4 separate regions of the Homo sapiens genome follow, and regions 1, 2 and 3 are each linked to region 4. The links come from fine-mapping of genetic effects on gene expression. A gene starts in region 4. Each other region holds a variant in brackets. All regions are shown on one strand. Distances are between the middles of the regions. Region 1 overlaps GMEB2 (glucocorticoid modulatory element binding protein 2). Region 2 overlaps GMEB2 (glucocorticoid modulatory element binding protein 2). Region 3 overlaps GMEB2 (glucocorticoid modulatory element binding protein 2). Region 4 holds the start of STMN3 (stathmin 3).

The links.
Region 1: its variant is fine-mapped to the expression of STMN3 in whole blood (TOPMed, PIP above 0.99).
Region 2: its variant is fine-mapped to the expression of STMN3 in whole blood (TOPMed, PIP 0.99).
Region 3: its variant is fine-mapped to the expression of STMN3 in whole blood (INTERVAL, PIP above 0.99).

Annotation. Positions count from the first base shown.
Region 1 is chr20:63,585,799-63,590,942 of GRCh38, forward strand. It overlaps GMEB2 (glucocorticoid modulatory element binding protein 2), which reads right to left. Exons shown (of 10, transcript NM_012384.5): 10 at 1,807-4,931. The coding sequence ends at 4,291. Among named protein-coding and RNA genes, the nearest start is that of HELZ2, 14 kb to the left of the region's middle. RefSeq lists enhancers at 1,680-1,849, 2,443-2,612, 4,530-4,699 and a cis regulatory region at 1,765. The variant G/A (reference allele first, on the strand shown) is at 2,589.
Region 2 is chr20:63,595,709-63,600,852 of GRCh38, forward strand. GMEB2 (glucocorticoid modulatory element binding protein 2) reads right to left here. Exons shown (of 10, transcript NM_012384.5): 5 at 2,049-2,152; 6 at 1-59. Among named protein-coding and RNA genes, the nearest start is that of HELZ2, 24 kb to the left of the region's middle. RefSeq lists an enhancer at 2,098-2,267. The variant C/T (reference allele first, on the strand shown) is at 2,241.
Region 3 is chr20:63,609,234-63,614,377 of GRCh38, forward strand. All of the region lies in intron 2 of GMEB2 (glucocorticoid modulatory element binding protein 2), which reads right to left. Among named protein-coding and RNA genes, the nearest start is that of GMEB2, 15 kb to the right of the region's middle. RefSeq lists enhancers at 1,260-1,429, 4,726-4,895. The variant G/A (reference allele first, on the strand shown) is at 2,543.
Region 4 is chr20:63,650,509-63,655,652 of GRCh38, forward strand. It overlaps STMN3 (stathmin 3), which reads right to left and starts at 2,916. Exons shown (of 5, transcript NM_015894.4): 1 at 2,819-2,916. The coding sequence starts at 2,837. RefSeq lists enhancers at 1,049-1,619, 2,896-3,575, 3,576-4,254 and silencers at 2,594-2,683, 2,704-2,753.

The DNA of each region.
Region 1 (5,144 bases), 65 kb before region 4:
GAGGAGTGGCCAGTGCTGCACCGGCTCCTGGGGACACTCAGTGGGTACAAGACATGACCCCTTGTAGGTTTGTATCTTGTGGCCTCTGAAACCCCATGAAGTATCAGGAGGAGGAGATATCATGGTGGGATACTGAGGGGTGCAGCCCCCTCCAGGGGCAGAGGGAATGATGGGGGTGCTCAGGACGTGTCAGCAAATGGGAAGGGTCACAGCCGGAAGGGTAGCAGGAGGGTAGGAAGGGCCAGAGGTGGGAACCGGGTAGTTACATCGACCTGAGAGAGATGGAGGGGGCCTGGCCTCACAAGAAGGGGATGCATCGTGGATGTGAGGTTGCAGGAAGGTGGGCTGAGCCTGTGGGCAGGTGTTGGTGCTCCCCTCCCCGACGGGGCACGATGGGGACAGAGCATGGGAGGGAATATGAAGCAGGAGCTCTGTCTTGTACACATGGAATCTGAGGAGCTGACAGATGACCTGTGGGGAGGGTGGTCCCGTGCCAATGTGTGCTGGAAGGACATGCCTGTGCGTTTATCAGCTCTGGGCTGCAGCAGGGCACAAGCGTGGAAGAGCAGCCATGGCAGAAGGGCAGGTTTCAGAGTGGACTCTTGGAACCAGCGCCCTGTGCCCCTCCAGCCACCGTCCCGGAGGGCACCCAGTGACCCGGCTTTCGATGCCATTCTGCCTTGAGGGACGTGTCCAACTTTCCTAAGTGGAACCACGCGGCATGGACTTTTTTTTTTTTTGAGACAGAATTTCACTCTGGTCGCCCAGGCTGAAGTGCAGTGGTGCAATCTCGGCTCACTGCAACCTCTGCCTCCCAGGTTCAAGCGATTCTCCTGCCTCAGTCTCCCGAGTAGCTGGGATTACAGGCACCTGCCACCACGCCCAGCTAATTTTGTATTTTTAGTAGAGATGGGGTTTCACCATGTTGGCCAGGCTGGTCTCAAGCTCCTGACCTCAGGTGATCCACCCGCCTCAGCCTCCCAAAGTGCTAGGATGACAGGCGGGAGCCACCACACCCAGTGACCACACAGCGTGGACTTCTATGTCTGCCTCTTGCTGGGCCGTGAGTCTGGGAGGCTGGCCTGTGGCTGGTGTGCAGGCTCCTATGGCCTTGGGTGGACCATGGCAGCAGGGAGGGGAACAGCGTTGGTGACGAGAAGGCTCTGGGACTGAACCTGGGAGAGGGGAGGAAGGGGCCCCCCTGGGCGTGAGTCTGTTGAGCTCCTGACTGGCGGGCGCAGGCCCCTGTGCCACTGAGAGGTCTCCTTACCTGTGAGCGGCGGTGCCTCCGACGCCAGCCTCGGGTCAAGGTGGGGCCCAGGCTGTTCTTACTATTGTCCTCCAGCGATTTGCAGGACACCTTCAAAACCCTCACGAGTTACCGAATCGGCTGATTCAAAACCCTCACCAGGCACCAAATCGGCTGATGCTCTTGATCTCCGACTTGCCAGCGTGCAGAACTGCATAAATGAACCTCTGTTGCTTGCAAGCCCCCCAGCCTGCGGTATTTTGTTACAGTAGCACTAACGACTAAAACGGCCATGATCCTCCCACCAGGCCTCTTGAAAACTCCGATGCGTGCTGGGGAGAGAAGGACAAGGGCACAGGGCACCTGCTGTGATGAAAACAGCTTTGACCTCGGGACACCCTGGAAGGGTCCTGAAGCCCCCAGGCCACACTTGGAAGAACGAAGCATGTGGGTGTGAGTGGTCCGGGGCGGGGGTGGCAGCCAGCGCTGTTTGCGTTGGGCGTGTTTATAGACTTGATTTCTCTCCACACTTCATTCCAAGAGATAGACACTCAAACTATGAAAATTGTTTTTATTTTAAATCAAAGTACCAGGCAGATACTTGCAAAACAACATACAAAGCAAAACTCAAACATGGCCCTTCCCTAGGGCGCCTCTGAGCAGGCACAGAGAAGTTCTCACCCTCTGCAAAATCCAATCCAATCCTATCTTCTCAGAAAACCAAACCAAAGGCAGCCATGAAAACCCGTGTTCTGTACGTGGTTGAGAAGGTCCTCCTCTCTGAGTACTGGCTGGCCCCAAGGCGCAGAACTGGGAGGTCCAGGGAACCCTGCCCCCGAGGAGCCAGCAGGACCTGGAGGAGCCGGGGGCGGTGCTGACAACAACCTTCCCCACCCACTGCAGTGTGGTTCCCATGAGGATGAGGGCTTCTCCAGGGCCCTTCCCCACGCTGGGGCTTGGAGCCCCTGCCAGAAGCAGCTGGGTTGGCGGTAGATGTCCCCGAGGGCCTTGGGAAGCACTGGGAATGGGCTCCCAGCCCTGGTGGAATGGGGGATTGGGAATTAATTCTGAAGCTGGTTGTGGCTTATTTTTGTATGGCTCTGAAATTAACTTCCTCTCCCTATGCCTCAGTAGCTAAGGGGCAGGGGCAGAAAAGGTCCCAACCCTGTTCTTAAAAAGAAAGGAAATGAACCCACAACCCACTGGAAGTTCTGTTGACGAGGGCTGTCAAGGCAGACGCACTCGTGACTTTGACAAAGGGAAGCAGCTGGAAGGTTGCGGGTCCCAGGGTCACAGGCAGCTGTATTAGTGACAGGTTCTGAGCTGGTGGGTGGGGGCC[G/A]CAGGGCTCTCCTGACCCCCGTAGGGTCATACCGCTGCATGCTGCAGAACTCAACTAGAGTGGAAATGAGTTTAAAACGGAGTATGTACATCAAAAGATCAACATCACGCCGAAACCAGCTGACTGTGACAACAGCAAACAAAAATGTAACAGAGAAAACAAACAAGACACAGCCTCAGTAGCTTGACATGGGTGAGGGCAGCCAGGACAGGGCCCTGGTGACAATGGCGCAGAGGTGGGGTCTGGGCCGCTCACTGGACGGACAGCCAGCCAGTTCCCTTCGGAGCAGTGAAGTGGGACACAGGACCCTCGCATTGCGGGGCCTCAGACGGGCCTTCAACTGCCGACAGAATCAGCAGGAGCGTCCAGGGGAATCTGGCACTCAGGGTCCTCCCGGGACATGCCCTGTTGGAGACGGCAGGAGGCCTGGGCTGGCTGCTCCCTGAGATGCCTGCCCCAGGACCCTGGCCTGGAGGGGCCTCAGCCTGGTCTTCCTTGTGAGTCCAAGGCCAGGTCTCAGGACAGCCACAGACAGCCCTTCCAGACAGGCTCTGGGCTCCACCTTCGGCAGCTGCCCTGAGCAGCCCACCCGGGGCAGCCTCCTGAACACCCAGGGGCTCTCCCTTGGACAGAGACCACCAAGGGCCAGCCCAGGGGCTGCATGGGGGCCGGGGGCCAGGGAGCCAAGGGCTGTTCCGTGGCCAAGCAGCCCAAGCTGAAGGGCCCACATGGGAATCCTCGACCTCCATAGTGACTGGTTCTGTTTATGCCTCTGCCCCAGGACTGAAGCCCTAGGGACACACCTCATGGATCTCAGACCCCTGGGAGGGGCCGGCTCAGGGACAGGCTGCCCAGGACCTCCGCACCCGGTCAAGTGCACTCACAGGGGCTCAGGGGCCACCCAAAGAGCTAACTCGGGAAGCCTAGGCACTCACCATTATTTTGGTTGAAAATGCTATAAATCTGACTCTTCCTAGAAGCCTACTAAGCAATTCACTTAAAAACACCCTCAGTACATGTGCAACAATGCCTGGACCACGCCTCGTCTGTGCGGCCCCTGGGCCACCTGAGCACCGGCTGGGGGCGGGGGAGGCAGGCACCCATCAGGATCTGCACCCCAAGCTCCGGGTGCATGTTCCCAACTGGAGGAGAACGGGGCGCCAGCCACACTAAACCTACAGAAAACTGTGGGAAGAAACCAAATCCATAGGATCCAGAGGTTTCACACTTGGGCTTAGCTCCCAAGTCATGAGTTAGTAACGTCCCCAGGGACCTGGCTGGGTGCAGACATGGGGGCCTCGTGACCTGCTGCACCGCGTCCAGCACCTGCAGGGTCGCGCTCGGCACCTGGCTCTGCTTCCTCTGTCTCTGCTGCACCCAGGCTCCCCCTAGCCCCCGCCCACCTGGCTCCTGATCAAGGCCCAATGTGTAAACAGTATTAATAAGCAACAGATGGAAAAATATATTTCCCAAGAAAAAAGGGGGAGGAAACGTGGGACCTGAAGACCGATTTTCCAGGTTGCTCTCGCTGTTCTGTCCCCTTCTCTCTTCTCGTGATTTGTTTTGGCGATTCCTCTCTTTGGTTCTGCAGACCACGTGACCCACCTGCCCGAGCCAGCCCTGCGGCCTCTGCCCGCTCCCTGCTGCCGCGGCTGAGAGACAGCCAGCCCTGTCCGTCCCAGGGGCCTCGCCCTCCTGTCGGCTACTTCCGCTCGTGGTCCTCTGCCATGGCAGCCACCTCAATGGTGGCCGTGTGCTCCTCAGGCCCGGGGGCAGCCCCTGCGGGCACTGTCACAATTGTGCTGGAGCCAGGCGAGGCCTGGGCCACGTTCTGCAGGGTGGGGCCCAGGCCAGGCAACGTGAGCAGCTGTAGCGGGCTGACCACCTTGAACACCGTGCTACCGTCCTGCACGGCGGCCGTGCTCAGGACCGTGAGGCTGGACGCGTCCGGGTGGATCTCCACTGTGCTGGGGTAGGTGGAGCCGGAAGAGGCCAAGACTGTGTATCCCCCGAGCAGCGGGGAGGCCGGGGAGCTGGCGGGGGGCGCCTGAAGGGAACCCTTGCCCAGGACGGTGGACGGCAGGGTGGACACCACTTTACCAAGGGGCACGCTGGTCAGCTGGGGGACGGGCACGCCCGGGCCAAGCGCCAGCTGGGCAGACTGGGTGAGCACCTGCGAGGCCATGGCGGCCGGTCCTGATGTGGCACGTGCAAGCCGGGGCCGCTTCACAGGCGGTGGCAGGGAGACCGGCGTCAGCGTCATGAGCACGTTGCTGAGGTGCTGGGACTTGTGCTTCAGCTCCTTGGCTCGGCGACGATGCTCATCACACTGCTGCTCCAGGGCTGCAGGGAGGTACAGATGGCATCACACAGGGGACGGGGGCATGGATGGCGGCATGCAGGGGATGGGGGCAGACACGCCACACCATCTGGGTGGCCCCTGGGTCAGTGGCAACCCAGGTCTGCTCACCTGATGCCACAAACCCAGATGACCACATGGCCGCCAAAGGTGAGGTCTGTGGGAGACGGGGCCCAAGATGGCCCTCGGGGTAGACA
Region 2 (5,144 bases), 55 kb before region 4:
TGTTGGAGCAGACCTTGTCATGCTGGTAGAAGTCCAGTTCCCCGGAGTCCATGATCTTCCTGTGACAGACAGTGGCATGGAGCGTCCAGGTCGGCCCCAGAGCCGAAGGCACCTGGCCCGCCCACCCTGACCTGGGCCATCCACCTGCGTGGGGCAGGCCTAGCAGAGGCGCTGGCAGCTCCACAGGGCAGGGTGGGCTCTACTTCCCTCTTAGCGCGAGCTCGGCGTGCAGGACCCTGCTGCTGAAGAAGCAGCCGGCCCAGGCCCACGCTACGGCACTGTCCCCAGGAAGGGGGCAAGCGCTGGCCAGTGGGTGTCCTGGAGGTGCCCGTCAGAGTCTGTGGGGCTGGGCCTTTCTGGGATGTCCCACTACCCCAGCCCCAAGGGAGTGACCCACAGCTAACAAAGGTGGGCCCAGTCCACCTGCATCATGCGTGACTCATTCTGAAGCAGAGGAAGGTGGGAAATCACTTCCAGGAGAACCTTCCTCCTTCTAAAGGCACAGAGACAGCCAAGAAGAGTGATGAGGGCGCAGGACAGCACCAACGGCCATGGCTGCCGCTCATCCTCATCTTTACCAGGAAGGCTTCGTACGGCCCAAACTGCTGAGAGCCGCCCTCCCAGGGCCCTCTCTTCTGCCTCTCCGGAGGTCCAGGGTCTCAGTCCTGTGTGTCTCAACGAGCCTGCCTCGACCCATGAAACGAGGGTCAGAGGCTCCAGCCTCATTCAATCTTTGGGCAGCACTGACCTCAGGCACACACAGGCTAATGCTTCTGTGGTCAGCTCAGGACTTGCCTACCTGGCCGGTGGTCCCCACAGCTGTGCCACCAGCCACGTTCCAGAAAATCAGAGGCCAGTTCAGCTGGACAGGGAAAGGACCTGAGCCATGGGAAAGGACCCAGGGCTAGTCACTCGTGAGGTCTCAAACTCTGACTCCAGCACAAAGCAGGGGCCCTCCTTGGGAAGCAAGGTAGAGGCCAGGCCCACAAAGACTGAGACTGAGGCTTATGATTCACAGATAAGTGAAGGCCGGGCACGGTGGCTCATGCCTGGAATCCCAGCACTTTGGGAGGCTGAGGCAGGTCAATCACCTGAGGTCAAGTGTTCGAGACCAGCCTGGACAATATGGCAAAATCCCGTCTCTACTAAAAATACAAAAATTAGCCGGGTGTGCTGGCGAGCACCTGTAAACCCAGCTACTGGGGAGGGTGAGGAAGAGAATCGCTTGAACCCAGGAGGCAGAGTTCGCAGTGAGCCAAGATCATGCCACTGCACTCCAGCCTGGGCAACAGAGCAAGACTCCCTCTCAAAAAAAAAGTGAAAGAAAGGACAGAAATAAGGAGTAACATAAAAGGCCAAAATCTGATGCACAAATACCAGATTATACCTTTCTTTTATTTTTTATTTTCAGAATGCATAATTGGAACAGACCCTTTTCTTTTCCTTTTTATTCTTGTTTTTTTTTTTTTTTGAGACAGAGTCTCACTCTGTAACCCAAGCTGTATTGCAGTGGCACAATCACAGCTCACTGCAGCCTTGACTTCCAGGCTCCAGTGATCCTTCCACCTTAGCCTCTCGAGCAGCTGGGACCACAGGCATATGTCACCAAATCCAGATAATTTTTTTTTTATTTTTAGTAGAGATGAGGTCTCATTATTGTGCCCAGGCTGGTCTCAAACTCTTGGCGTCAAGTGATCCTCCTGCCTCAGCCTCCTAAAGTGTTGGGATTGCAGGTGTGAGCCATGTGCCCAGCCAACCCTTTATTTTACAACGCTGAAACAGTCACAAGTGCCTTCAGGTAAAGAATTGGTGGAAATTAAAATGACTGACAAAACAATTCTAAAAATCTGATAGTGTCCCTGTTGGCAGGAGTGTGGGAGACGGGTTTACAGTTTTGGGTGTGAGCAGGTGCAGCAGCCACCCGGGAGGTTGTCAGCACTCACCACATCTAAAATACGCCTCATCTTCAAAATCCCAAAACCCCACAAGAAAGCAAGAGCTGCCAGGGCCCCTTCCAGCAGGGAGGCTGACCCTGCGCCAGCGCCCACCTGAGCATGATGCCGTTCATGCGGATGGCTCTCTTCCAGTCCTTCAGGGTGGACTTCCCGGCCAGGTGCACAAATTCCTTTGGGCTGATTACATGCTCGTCGTACTGTGGGGGACACAGTCATGTGGGTCAAGCTTGGCCGGGACACCACATAGGGTGCCCCCATCTCCCATCCGACCCTGAGTCAGGCGCG[C/T]AAGGCAGGAAAAGCGCCACGGCACGGCTCTGACCGGTGCAGGCCTCCTACAGAGCATTCAGGTAAAACAAGGACATGACCCACAGGCACGGTGGCTGCAGTGGGGAGTGGTGTCTCCTCCAGCCCTGAGGGGGCAGAGCTGCTGTGTGCCTGGGGCTAGACAGGGCTGGGCTGACCACACCAGGTAGAAGGTGTGTGGCCTTCTCTTCCTCCAGGCAGACTAAGCAAACTGCTTCTGTGCAATGTATTTTATAAATACACGTTATTGCATACGTTACATCGCAGATGGCAACAGATGCCAGCACATGGGTGGAGCTGTGAACGCCACCTTCCTCAGGTCCCTCCTGACACCACCTTGCCCCGTGCAGCAAACACCGGCACCTGCTCTCACTCTGACACACACACACACACACACACACACACACTCATCTGTTTCTAAGCCAGGGGAACCCTCCTGCTTGCTAATTTCACCCATGTGGGAGCTCAGAGAAACTGAGAAGGTAAAATATCCTGTTCAATCTTGTTACACAAGCAATTATTGAAACCAAAAACTGGAATAAAACTGCATTTACTTAGAAAACAAGCAGGCTGGGGATGGAGGAGTCACGAGGTCTCTGCAGCTGGACCCAGGAGGCCCGAGTACGGGGGCCGCCTCCACCCCCGGGCCGTGCCCAAGTCTAGCTTGCTGAAGGAAGTGATGTTCCCAATCCCTGAGCCCACCCTCTCATGACCCCTGTGCCACAGACGGGAACACTAAGCCCAGCCAGTCTCTGGCTCTCCCTCATGCGGCTGATCAGGGAGATCCCATAGAAGTCCAGAAGGTGGAATCCAGAAGATTCTCTGGCCACTGTCGGAGCCTGGCAGGAAGGCTGCACTGGCTGTGACTGAGGCTGCTTCCGGCCATCACTTCTACCCAACGTGGCTCACACCTAGGAAACTCAACTGCACCCAAAGGGCCTGATCCTACCTAGGGCTCTGGGCTCAGCCAGCCTCACCTCCCTGCCCCTCCTAGGCCTGCCTCTTTCCTTTCTTGCTTTCACCTTTGTTACTCTTCTCACCCCAGGTTTTCCTCTCCCAGCTAGGAAGCTACATGCTGTACTCTCATGAGTGGCTCCAGGAGCTTCAGCATGTCACGCTTACCAGAGCTGCCAGAGCCCAGAGCTAACGCGGCCACTCCTGACCCCCCAGAGCTAACGCAGCCGCTCCTGACCCTCCAGCGCTAACGCGGCCCGCTCCTGACCCCCCGGAGCTAACGTGGCCGCTCCTGACCCCCCGGAGCTAACTCGGCCCGCTCCTGACCCTCCAGACCACAGCCACGTGGCCCTGCTCTCATCTCTGAGGCCCTCCAGGGCGTCTCTCTCGATGCTGAATAGACAGGACTGGTCGGGTGACCCACGTTTCCCCGACTCTTCACACCTCCTCACAGCACAGCGCTTCCATCTGGAGGCCTCCTATCTCCGCCTGCAATGCATATTTAGAACATCCTTCCATCATGATCTGCTGGTGGCAAACTCGTGTCTTTTTCTGGAAACGTCTTTCTTCCAGCATAATTTCAAAGACGACCTCACGGTGTCGTCACTCGCCACACAGTGAGGCTCTGGCGCTGCCACCTCTGCTCCTGCGCTGCTTTCGGGAGCTCACGGCCGGCGGGATTCTTGCTACTGAGCGATCCGTCTCTCCTCCTGGCTAGACTGAGGATCTTCTCTGTCCCCGTCCTTCTGGAATTTCATTATGATGTCACCTATGGTACATTTCTTTCGTGTTTCCAACTTCTAATTCTAATACAATTTCAAACTCACAGGGTAATTGCCAGGATAGTCCAGGGAGCTCTCACACGTGCGTTCCGGACTCACTGCCTGCTCCCGTCTGCCCCCTTGCCCCCGCCTAGACCTGTGCACGTGCAGCTACTGAGAGTGAAGCAGAGACGTCGGGCCCCTGGGCCCTCAACACTTGTGTATATTTCCTAAGAACAAGCTTCTCTTACGCAGCCACAGAACAACTCGCATCAGGAAATTATCATTCATACATTATTCTCTAATCCATTGTCCATAGTCAAATTCATGAATTGTTCCAATGATAGCCTTTATTGCAAAAAAAAAATTTTTTTTTTTGAGATGGAGTCTCACTCTGTCGTCCAGGCTGGAGTGCACTGGTGCAATCTTGGGCTCACTGCAACCTCCGCCTCCCGGGTTCAAGAGATTCTCTTGCCTCAGCCTCCCGAGTAGCTGGGAGTACAGGCACATGCCACCATGCCTGGCCAATTTTTTTGTATTTGTCGCAGAGATGGGGTTTCACCATGTTGGCTGCGCTGGTCTCGAACTCCTGACCTCAGGTGATTCACCCGCCTCGGCCTCCCAAAGTGCTGGGATTACAGGCGTGAGTCACCATGCCCAGCCTACATTTTTTTCTGATGCAGGATCCAGCCCAAGACTGTGGAGCATGCAGCTGCCTTGCTCTTCGGCTTTTGTCCCCATTAAGACTGCAGCAGGCCGGGCGCGGTGGCTCACGCCTGTAATCCCAGCACTTTGGGAGGCCAAGGCGGGCAGGTCACCTGAGGTCAGGAGTTCGGGCTCAGCCTGGCCAACATGGCAAAACCCCATCTCTACTAAAAATACAAAAATCAGCCAGGCATGGTGGTGGGTGCCCGTAGTCCCAGCTACTCAGGAGGCTGAGGCAAGAGAATCACTTGAACCCAGGAAGCGGAGGTTGCGGTGAGCCAAGATCGCGCCATTGCACTCCAGTCTGGGCAACAGAGGAAGACTCCATCTCAAAAAAAAAAAAAAAAAAAAAAGACGGAGCAGCTTCTCAGCCTGTCTGTGTTTTTCTTCACCTTGACGTTTTTGGAGCTTGTGGGTCAGGTATTAACGTAGGCTGTCTCTCCATGAGTGTCTGCTGTTTTCTCAT
Region 3 (5,144 bases), 41 kb before region 4:
CCCCTCTGACCCACCTCCATTTCCAGAAACATGCCCCTCTGACCCCACACATCCATTTCTAGAAACATGTCCCTCTGACTCACCTCCATTTCTAGAAACATGCCACTCTGACCCCACACATCCATTTCTAGAAACATGCCCCTCTGACCTCACCTCCATTTCTAGAAACATGCCCCTCTGACCCCACCTCCATTTCTAGAAACATGCCCCTCTCACCCCACATCCATTTCTAGAAACATGTCCCTCTGACCCCACATCCATTTCTAGAAACATGCCCCTCTGACCCCACCTCCATTTCTAGAAACATGCCCCTCTGACCTCACCTCCATTTCTAGAAACATGCCCCTCTGACCCACCTCCATTTCTAGAAACATGCCCCTCTCACCCCACATCCATTTCTAGAAACATGCCCCTCTGACCCACCTCCATTTCTAGAAACATGCCCCTCTGACCCACCTCCATTTCTAGAAACATGCCCCTCTGACCCACACCTCCATTTCTAGAAACATGTCCCTCTGACCCCACCTCCATTTCTAGAAACATGCCCCTCTGACCCCACCTCCATTTCTAGAAACATGCCCCTCTGACCCACACCTCCATTTCTAGAAACATGCCCCTCTGACCTCACCTCCATTTCTAGAAACATGCCCCTCTGACCCACACATCCATTTCTAGAAACATGCCCCTCTGACCCCACCTCCATTTCTAGAAACATGCCCCTCTGACCCCACCTCCATTTCTAGAAACATGCCCCTCTGACTCCACCTCCATTTCTAGAAATTAATCCTGCAGACATGGTGTTCCCACACTGGCATGAGGGTTGTCTGAAACAGGGAACAAGTCTCCAGTTTCTGGAACCCGTGCGGGCAGCTGCCTCTGGGGAGATGATGTGGAGAAGCTGGGAGAGGTCTGGGTGGGGTTCCCAGCTGTGCACCTCATAACAGCCAACTGTATGATGTGTGCACTTCTAAACTTCCAGAAGTTTGCTTAAAAACACACGCACACCAGCCGGGCACGGTGGCTCACACCTGTAATCCCAGCACTTTGGGAGGCCGAGGCAGGCGGATCACAAGGTCAGGAGATCGAGACCATCCTGGCTAACACGGTGAAACCCCGTCTCTACTAAAAATACAAAAAATTAGCCGGGCGTGGTGGCGGGCGCCTGTAGGCCCAGCTACTCAGGAGGCTGAGGCAAGAGAATGGCGTGAACCCGGGAGGTGGAGGTTACAGTGAGCCGAGATCGCGCCATTGCACTCCAGTCTGGGCGACAGAGTGAGAATCTGTCTCAAAAAAAGAAAACAAAACAAAAAAAACATGTAGCAAGAGGAAGTCTCAATTTCCAGATGGTAGAAGAACAGATTTAATTCCCCACAAAAAAGAAGAGGATCTTTAAGTCCTTCAAGACAGCCCTGCCTCAGCTGCCACGTGGGGTTCTCTTCTCAGAGAAGAAGGCGCATGCAGACTCTCCACTGCTCCATAAGCCACTGTCCCGCGAGGGCAGAGCCTTGGCGTCCTGGCAAAGCAACTGCAGACTGAAAAATGCCCTCTGGTCCTTCATGGCTCCCTCCATCAAGACAGGGGGCTATTTCCCACCCCCTCCACTTGACTTTGGGCCAAGCTTTGAAGAGCTTTGACCAAGAGGCTGTGACGAGGCCCTACGAGGACTCTGGCTCTCCTCCTGCTAAGCACACCCAGGCAGGTGTCCTGGCAGATGAGGACCACATGCAGAGCCTCGGCCAGCCCACCAATGCCCGGATATGCAAGTGAGCCCAGCCTGGACCCCCCGGCGAGGCCCAGCAGCACCAGCCCAGGCCCGAAAACCTTAAGAAATGACCAGTGTCTGCTGCTTTAAGCCACCAAGCTCTGCGGTGGTTTGTTAGGCTGCAAGCATGGCTAATTCAGAAACTGCCAGAAACAAGCACTGCTGTCCCCAGCCTGGGACACACAGCACCGCCTCTGCGTGGGGAGAGGGCACAGGCTAAGGGCACAAATGCCATCCCAGACCCGGCTCTTGTGTGTGGAAGGGGCCACTGTGCCATGAGGCAGAGGAAACCTTGGCAGGACCTTATGCCACAGCAATTTAAAAGAGAAGAAACAGGCTGGGCGTGGTGGCTCATGCCTATAATCCCAGCACTTTGGGAGGCCAAGGTGGTGGATCACTTGAGGTCAGGAGTTCAAGACCAGCCTGGCCAATATGGTGAAACCCTGTCTCTACGAAAAATACAAAATTTAGGCAGGCGTGGTGGCGGGTGCCTGTAATCCCTGCTATTCAGGAGGCTGAGGCAAGAGATTTACTTGAACCCGGGAGGTGGAGGCTGCTGCAGTGAGCTGAGATCATGCCACTGCACTCCAGCCTGTGTGACGGAGTGAGACTTGGTCTCAAAAAAAAAAAAGGAAACACATCTGACTAGTGTGATCTCGCAAGGAACATTCCAGACACAGTGGAGCTAGAAGGTTCTTCTCCAAACAAGGAATCCCCAGGGGATCAAATTGTTTTGCATCGGCCAGACATGGTGGCTCAAGCCTGTAACCCCAGTGCTTC[G/A]GGAGGCTGAGGTGGGAGGACTGCTTGAGTCCAGGAGTTCAAGACTAGCTTGGGCAACACAGTGAGAGCCCATTAGCCAGGCGTGGTGGCACATGCCTGCAGTCCCAGCACTGTACTAAAAATCTACACGGGGCCGGGCATGGTGGCACATGCCTGTAGAGTCCCAGCTACTCAGGAGGCTGAGGCAGGACGATTCCTTGAACCCAGGAGGTCACGGCTGCCATGAGCCGTGACTGTGCCACTGCACTCCAGTCTGTGCAACAGAACGAGACTCTGTTTCGAAAAACAAAAAATCATTTCATGTCTCCAGTTTCTCCACTGGCAAAAGACTCTGTCAAGGTAAAAAATGGTTCTGACCCACAGAAATCTAAGAAAGGAAAAAATATAAAAAATAGAAAATTTAAAAAAGAGATGGTCTCAGAATAAAGACCAACCTGGGCTATGGTTGTCACTCTTCCCTCACACCTTAGAAAGCTTTCTGGCCGCATCTGGCCAAAGGGCCACCCTGCCCCATCTTGGATCAGTGAGGTGCCTTCGAACAAGCCACCTGCCCTGGAGCCCGTCCTGTCTTGTCTGCCACCGCACGCTCAGTAGGGGAGGGGAAGTCGCTAGGTTTTAGTTCACCAGTCTCTGGATCAAGACGTGCCATAACCAAGAAGCCCCAGCCACACCCAGACCCGACGTGGCCACAAGGGGTGAGCTGGGAAGGCCCAGGAAAAGGCGGGAGGCGGACGAATGGAAATGTCATTCTGTGGCCACAGAAATGATCTCAACGTTTTGTAACTTCCTACCAAGAGGCAGTCTTAGCTCTGCCCTTGAACCAGCACTTGGTGATGTCGCTTGCGTCAATCAAGGCAACAGAAGTGAGCAGGAGGCCCACTTTCCTCTGCAACTGTGGGCTTACGGGGCAAAGAAGTCCAGGCCTCCAGGTGGAGGATCACAGACCGGGCAAAGCAGAGGAGAGCCACCCAGCCGAGCCTACCTGTGCCTCAGACTGCCTCCCTCCAGAGACCCCTGTGGCCAAGGCCACCCAGACCAGCAGGTCCTTGCCAAGCTGTCAGCTGACGACAGGGGTTGGTGAGGCCGGCCCAGACCAGCAGAACCACGAACCAACCAACAGAATTAAAAATAATAACAACTATGTCTTGTCTTAAGCCACTAAGTTTTGGATGGTTTCTTTCTTTCTTTTTCTTTTTTTTTTTCGGAGACGCAGTCTCACTCTGTTGCCCAGGCTGGAGTGCAGTGGCGCAATCTTGGCTCACTGCAAGCTCTGCCCCCCGGATTCACGCCATTCCCCTGCCTCAGCCTCCTGAGTAACTGGGACTACAGGTGCCTGCCATTGGGTGTTTTCTTAAACAGCAAAAGAAAACTGACACAATCATAAACAGAGCAAGCAAGAGAACTTGGCAATTATTTCCTCTCTACTTCTCACTGTTCTTCAAAGAGTTAACTCAAGCATAAGATGTGAGCAAATTCTTTTAACATCCTAGAAAAAAAGCTCCTACTCAGTGTTCATAAAGCAAAGCTAACCTACAGGAGCCACCTTCCACAGTGACCACAGGAAACCAAGACAGCAAGTGGGACACCAGCCTCCAGGGCACTGCGCCAGCCGTGCGCCTGTGTCTGCCACTGCCCTGGTCCGTCACTGCCACCAGCCGGCAAGACACCCACAGAGGAGAGCTCTAAGCCACAACTGTGTACGAAGACAACTGTGCAGGATTTTATTACTACAACATTTTTGTTTTCTTTTTTTTTTTTTTTTGAGACTGAGTCTCGCTCTGTCACCCAGGCTGGAGTGCAGTGGCACAATCTCGGCTCACTGTAACCTCCATCTCCCTGGTTCAAGCAATTCTCCTGCTGCAGCCTCCCAACTGGATTACAGGCGCCCGCCACCACGCCTGGCTAATTTTTGTACTTTTAGTAGAGACGGGGTTTCACCATGTTGGCCAGACTGGTCTCAAATTCCTGACAAGTGATCCACCCACCCTGGCCTCCCAAAGTGCTGGGATTACAGGTGTGAGCCACTGCGCCTGGCCCATTTTTGTTTATCAATAAAAATGTACTTAATGTTGAACTCTCCACATTTCAAATGGGTAACTCCAGTGTCCTTGATGCTCCTGCGACATGTTCGTGAGACTTCTCTTGGGTGTGAGAGTCTAGCATGTGGGTGGTCTGGACAGGAGGGGGAGGGAAGAGTGCAGAGCAGGGCAGGGTAAAGAGACCCCCTAGGATGTGAAGGCCGCCCTGCATTTGTCAGACTGGGCAACACCCACTCCATCAGATGGACCCTGGTATGGGCGGCAAGCCACCTAGGTGCCGAGGCAAGAGACCGAGGGCACGAGCTGTTCCGGTGTAATAAAATGCATAAAATAAGAATAGTTATACTAGATATAGATCATAAATATGATTATATATGAATATCATTCATCATTAGTTTGTAGCAATTACTCTTTATTCCAATATTATAATAATCCTTGCCTAAGCATAACCTAGGAAAAACTAGGAAATCATAACCTAGGAAAAACTAGGCCATACAGAGATAGGAGCTGAGGGGACATAGTGAGAACTGACCAGAAGACAAGAGTGCGAGCCTTCTGTTATG
Region 4 (5,144 bases):
GGTGGATGGTGCCCACTCCCAGGGTCACACCTCACGCCCACCCCTCCCGTCGCCCAGGTGGATGGTGCCCACTCCCAGGGTCACACCTCACGCCCGCCCCTCCCACCCACCCGGGTGGATGGTGCCCGCTCCCAGGGTCACACCTGACGCCCACCCGGGTGGATGGTGCCCGCTCCCAGGGTCACACCTCACGCCCACCCCTCCCGCCCGCCCGGGTGGATGGTGCCCGCTCCCAGGGTCACACCTCACGCCCACCCCTCCCGCCGTCCAGGTGGATGGTGCCCACTCCCAGGGTCACACCTCACGCCCACCCCTCCCGCCGCCCAGGTGGATGGTGCCCACTCCCAGGGTCACACCTCACACCCACCCCTCCCGCCCACCCGGGTGGATGCCCTTATCAGCTCTCCTTCTCCTTCTCTTTCGTCTTCTTCGTCTTCCTCCTCTTCTTTCTTCTTTTTTTTTTTTTTTAGAAAGAGTTTCTACTCTTGCTGCCCAGGCTGGAGTGCAATGGCACAATCTCAGCTCACTGCAACCTCCCTCTCCCCGGGTCAAGCAATTATCCTGCCTCAGTCTCCCAGATTGCTGGGATCACAGGAGTGTGTCACCACACCTGGCTAATTTTGTACTTTTAGCAGAGAGGGGGGATTTCACCATGTTGGCCAGGCTAGTCTCGAACTCTTGACCTCAGTTTATCCACCGGCCTCAGCCTCTCAAAGTGCTGGGATTACAGGCATGAGCCACCCTATCTGCCTCACTTCTACAGAGGAGGAATGAAGGCTCAGAGAGGGCAAGCATTCCACCCAGCATCACACAGAGTGCCGGGTGAGAGCCCAGTCATGAGCCTGGGCCTGACTGCAGGCTCCTGTTGGGAGCTCGCGGAGGTGGGGGATCTGTCCAGAACTGAGAGGCCAGGGGACCACAGTGGCCTCTGACCCCTGGAGGGCCCTGGAGGCTGCTGCCGGCTCCCCCCGGGGGCAGATGGAGGTCACTGTCACCCAGGCTGCTTCTCATGGTGCCAGGAGCACAGCATGGCAGGAGCCACCAGCCGATTTGCCTTTCCCTGGGCAGGAAACTCAGAAATGTGGCTACCACAGTCAGGCTGCTTGACGTGCGGTGAGCACTCATCTCTTAGCAGGCAAGCGGCCAAGCACCTTTCCTGAAATATTGAGGCCTCAGAACAAGCCCCAGGAGAGGTGCCAGCACCGTCATCTCTACCCAGATAAGGAGACCCAGGTCCTGAGAGGTTAGGCAGCTCGGACAACACCACACAGCTGGAGGAGGTCAGACTCTGGGTTGCAGAAGGAGAATGTGAGCAGAGGCCACAAAAGAGCGAGGAGCCAGTGCCCAGATGCCGAGATGCCCTCGCCCTCCCAGCTCAGCCCCAGGAACCGAGCCCATGGGGAGGGACCGTCAGGGAAAGGCTGTCAGGAAGGGCAGGAGGCGGCCCTGGAGAGGACGGCGCTGCCCTCAGGGGCAGGAGGGGAGTCCCCTCCGCTGAGAGCCCCCCCACCCCCAGTATCCCCGGGGGTGTCCAGGAGGAGGCGGAGGGAGGAAGCGCAGATGGACAGGACTCCCAGATAGGGTGGGGAGGTGTGGCCGGTGACACACACGGTCCCCTCCTGGCAGGTGCTGAAGTCACCTGGAGCCTCCAAGCCCGTGGGGCCTGAGGGGCGGGGTCAGGTCGGGCACGCGTGGGTGGGCGGAGTTCTGCGCCCCGGGCCAAGGCGCCCGAGTTGAACCAGTCAGCTCGGGAGAGGGACCGCGGCGACCTGTCCCGGGGGCGTAAGAAAAGGTGGGAGGGAGTGCGGCTCGTGAACGGGGGCGGCGATGGGAAGGAGGTGCGGCCCTTCGTCCTGTCCTCCCAAACGTCGAGTGAAAAACGAAGCGGGTTCTGCGGCCTCGCGGCGGAGCAGAGCGTTTCGGGAAGGGCGGGCCCAGCGTCCTCGCGCCCGAGGTCGCCCGGCAGCTCCCCTGCGTCCAGAATCCGCCCCCCGCCCGGGCCTGCGCCCGCCCCTCCGCCTGAGCTCCGCGCGGGACGGGCCGGGAGGCCGGGGTGGGCGCTACCTTCGAAGGCGGTGGGTCCGCCCCGCGGGAGGTGGAGGGGCGGGAGGGGCGGAGCCCTCTGGTCTCCGGAGGGTTTGGGGATCGCAGTCGCCCCTCCCCCATCCAGACCCCGCGGCGCAAAGGGCAGTGGCTTTTCTGGCCAGAGCAGGTGGCGCGGGCGTCGCAAAGGGTGGTCCCCGAGGCCGCAGCGGTGTGGGGGGAGGGCGCGGTCCCCCTCACTCCGGGCTCCGCCGTGTCTGGCCCGCCCCCCTCCTTCAGCGCCCCCTCCAGCCCCTGTGCTGCACTGGCGCGGGGAGCGCCGGGTTCCCGGCTGGGGCTTTGGCAGAGGGTCCCACCCTCTCCCCGCCTCCCCACGAAGGCTCTGGCGGACCCAGATCTCGGGTCGCCGGACGCCCCAGGGACCCCGCCCGCACATCGCGAGCGCGCCCACCCGGTCGCGAGCCCACGCCCGGGTCTGGGAGCCACCCTGCGGCAGTCGCGCCCTGCGTGGCACGCTGCTCCCCCAGGGGCGAGGCGCCCCCGCCCGACGTCCCGGTCCCGAGCGCTCCCCGGCGCGGCGCCTCGCAGCCCAGCGCCCCACCAGCCCCGCCGGCGCCGCAGACCCCAGCCTCGGGCGGGTCGGGCCCAGGCTTGCAACGCGCAGGGTAGGAGAAGGGAAATTGGCGTCCGCTGCCGGCCGCTGCCCCAGGCGAGGCCAGACGAGGCCTCTGCTCAGATCCCGCCGCCCCACAAAGCCCGTGGCCCCGGAGCCTACCGGAAATGGTGCTGGCCATGGTGCTGGCGGCGGTTGGGCCTGCGGAGGCTGGAGAGGCGCAAGTGGCGGCCGGAGCTGCAGACGGCTGGTGCTGCAGTGCCGGGGAGGGGAGGGGAGAGGAGTGGAGGGAGCGAGGGCGGGCGGGAGGCGGGCGCGGCGGGAGAGAGAGAGGGAGGGAGACAGAGGGAGAGAGAGAGAGGGTTGGGGGAAGGAGCGGGGGGAGGAGGGAGGGAGGGTTGGGGGAAGGAGAGAGAGAGAGAGAGAGACTGCGGGGGCGGGGGAAGGAGGGAGGGAGGAAGGGAGGGAGGAAGAGAGAGAGGAGCAAGCGCCTGGCTGCGGAAGGGGCCGCGGCTCTCAGGGGGAGAGGGCGGAGGAGGGGGGCTACCCGAACTGCAACAAGACCCCCCACCCTCCAACCGCTCACAGCGGGACAGCTGCTTCTCCAACTTGGCTTTGTGAGGCCTGAGAGTGGGGTGGGGGTGGAGATGAGCCCCCATTCCCCAGGGCAGGCGGGGCAGGGGCAATGCCGGAGGAGCAGGTCCCACCCATGGGGTGGGGCCGCAGAGCTCTTCGCCGCCAAGGCCGCTGTAGGCTGGGCTGGCGCCAACAGGGTCCAGGTCTGTGCCTGCCATCGGAGAGGATGCCACAGCCACAGGGGTGGGCGCTGGCCTGGAGGCCTCCAAGGGGCATCTCCTGTGAGCCCAGGGGATGGGCAGGATCTGAGCGGAGAAGAGTGAAAGTGGAGGAGTGAGGCCAGAACAAAGGCTTTGCCGTGAAAGAGGTGGTTTCCCGCCTGGGCTCAGACCTTCACTCACTGTGTGGCCCAGGCCAAGGGCAAGCGTCTGACCTCGCTGGGCCTTTGTTTCTCAGGGGTAAGATGAAACAATGATGCCCCCAGACGATGGAGAGGAGGGGTGCCAGGGTTGTGCGCACTTAGTGAGTGGGGGGCAACCTATCCTGCCTCCCCCTCTCCTCATAACTCCCAAAGGGAAAGCCTGGTAGGCAAACGGAGCGTCTTTGCCATTGCAGGGATGAAGCCACCGAGGCAGGGAGAAAAGTGCTTTGCCCTACAAGCAACTAAGTCATAGGGCCAGGAGCAAAACCCTGAAAACCTCAGGAGACTTGCAGAGCCATGAGGCTGGCTCAGCAACACAAAAGCCAGGGGCAAGCCTCAGCTCTAGCAGTGCGGTGGGAGCACCCAAGGCCAGTCACATCCTAGGGTGGCCTGGAGAGTCCTGACCCCTGACGTGCAAGCCGGCATCATCCCCGGGACTGTGAGTCTGGTGGGGGTGATGCCCAGGAATGTGACATTGTGTGGCCCAGAGGTACCCTTAAGACTGGAGGATCACCAGGCGGGCCCTGACCTCATCACAGGAGCCCTTTAAAAGCAGTTTCCTTTGCCTGGTTGAAGAAATCGGAGGGATCAAACCAAAGAAGGTTTTCTGTTGTTGAGATGAGGGGGCCACGTGGCAAGGATCTGAGAACTGCTCCCAGCCAACAGCCAGCAAGACAACAAGACCTTAACTGCAAGGAAGTGAGTTCTGCCAACAAGAAGAGAATGGGCTTGGAGGCAGGTTTGACCCCAGGGCCTCCACACAAGAACTGAGCCCAACTGCCCACTTGGTTTCAGCCTTGGGTTACTAAGAATTAGGAGGTAATGAATGAGAGTTGTTTTAAGCTGTTGGTTTTGTGGTGATTTGCTATGAAGCCATATCAAACTAATATACACACAGAGGTGTTGGCCCCTGGGCCATTCCTAGGAAGCCAGCTCTGCGAAGGAGGAAGAAGGGCAGAGAGGCACACAGAGCTGCCCACCACAGCAGCTGTGTCCTCCCTGTTGGCCACCACAGTAGCAGTTGGGGATGGTCAGCATCCTTCAGGCAGACTCCAGCCCCGGGTGCTGGAGCTCAGGTGCTAGGGATCAAGAGAAGTAGCCCTCTCTGGGACCTCCAGAGTCTTCTCATGTGGGTGGGGTAGGACCCACCCAGTCAGGCTCAGAGCACCGCAATGCCTCACACTCATTGTGACTCTGGCCAGGCCCTCTCTGAGCCTCTGTGTCCTCATCTGGAGCACAGGGACCAGGTGTGTGGAAGCCCGTGGCATAGTGCCAGGAACACAGTAGATGTGCACAGTGTGCACTAGCAGGAACACACAACAGGGGTACTGACTGTCAGCACCTAGGCAGGCACACGCAATGGGGTACTGACTGTCAGCCATACTGACTGTCAGCGTGCTAGCAGGCATACACAACAGCTGTACTGACAGCACACTAGCAGGCACATGCCATAGGTGTACTGACTCTCAGTGCACTGGCAGGCACACGCAA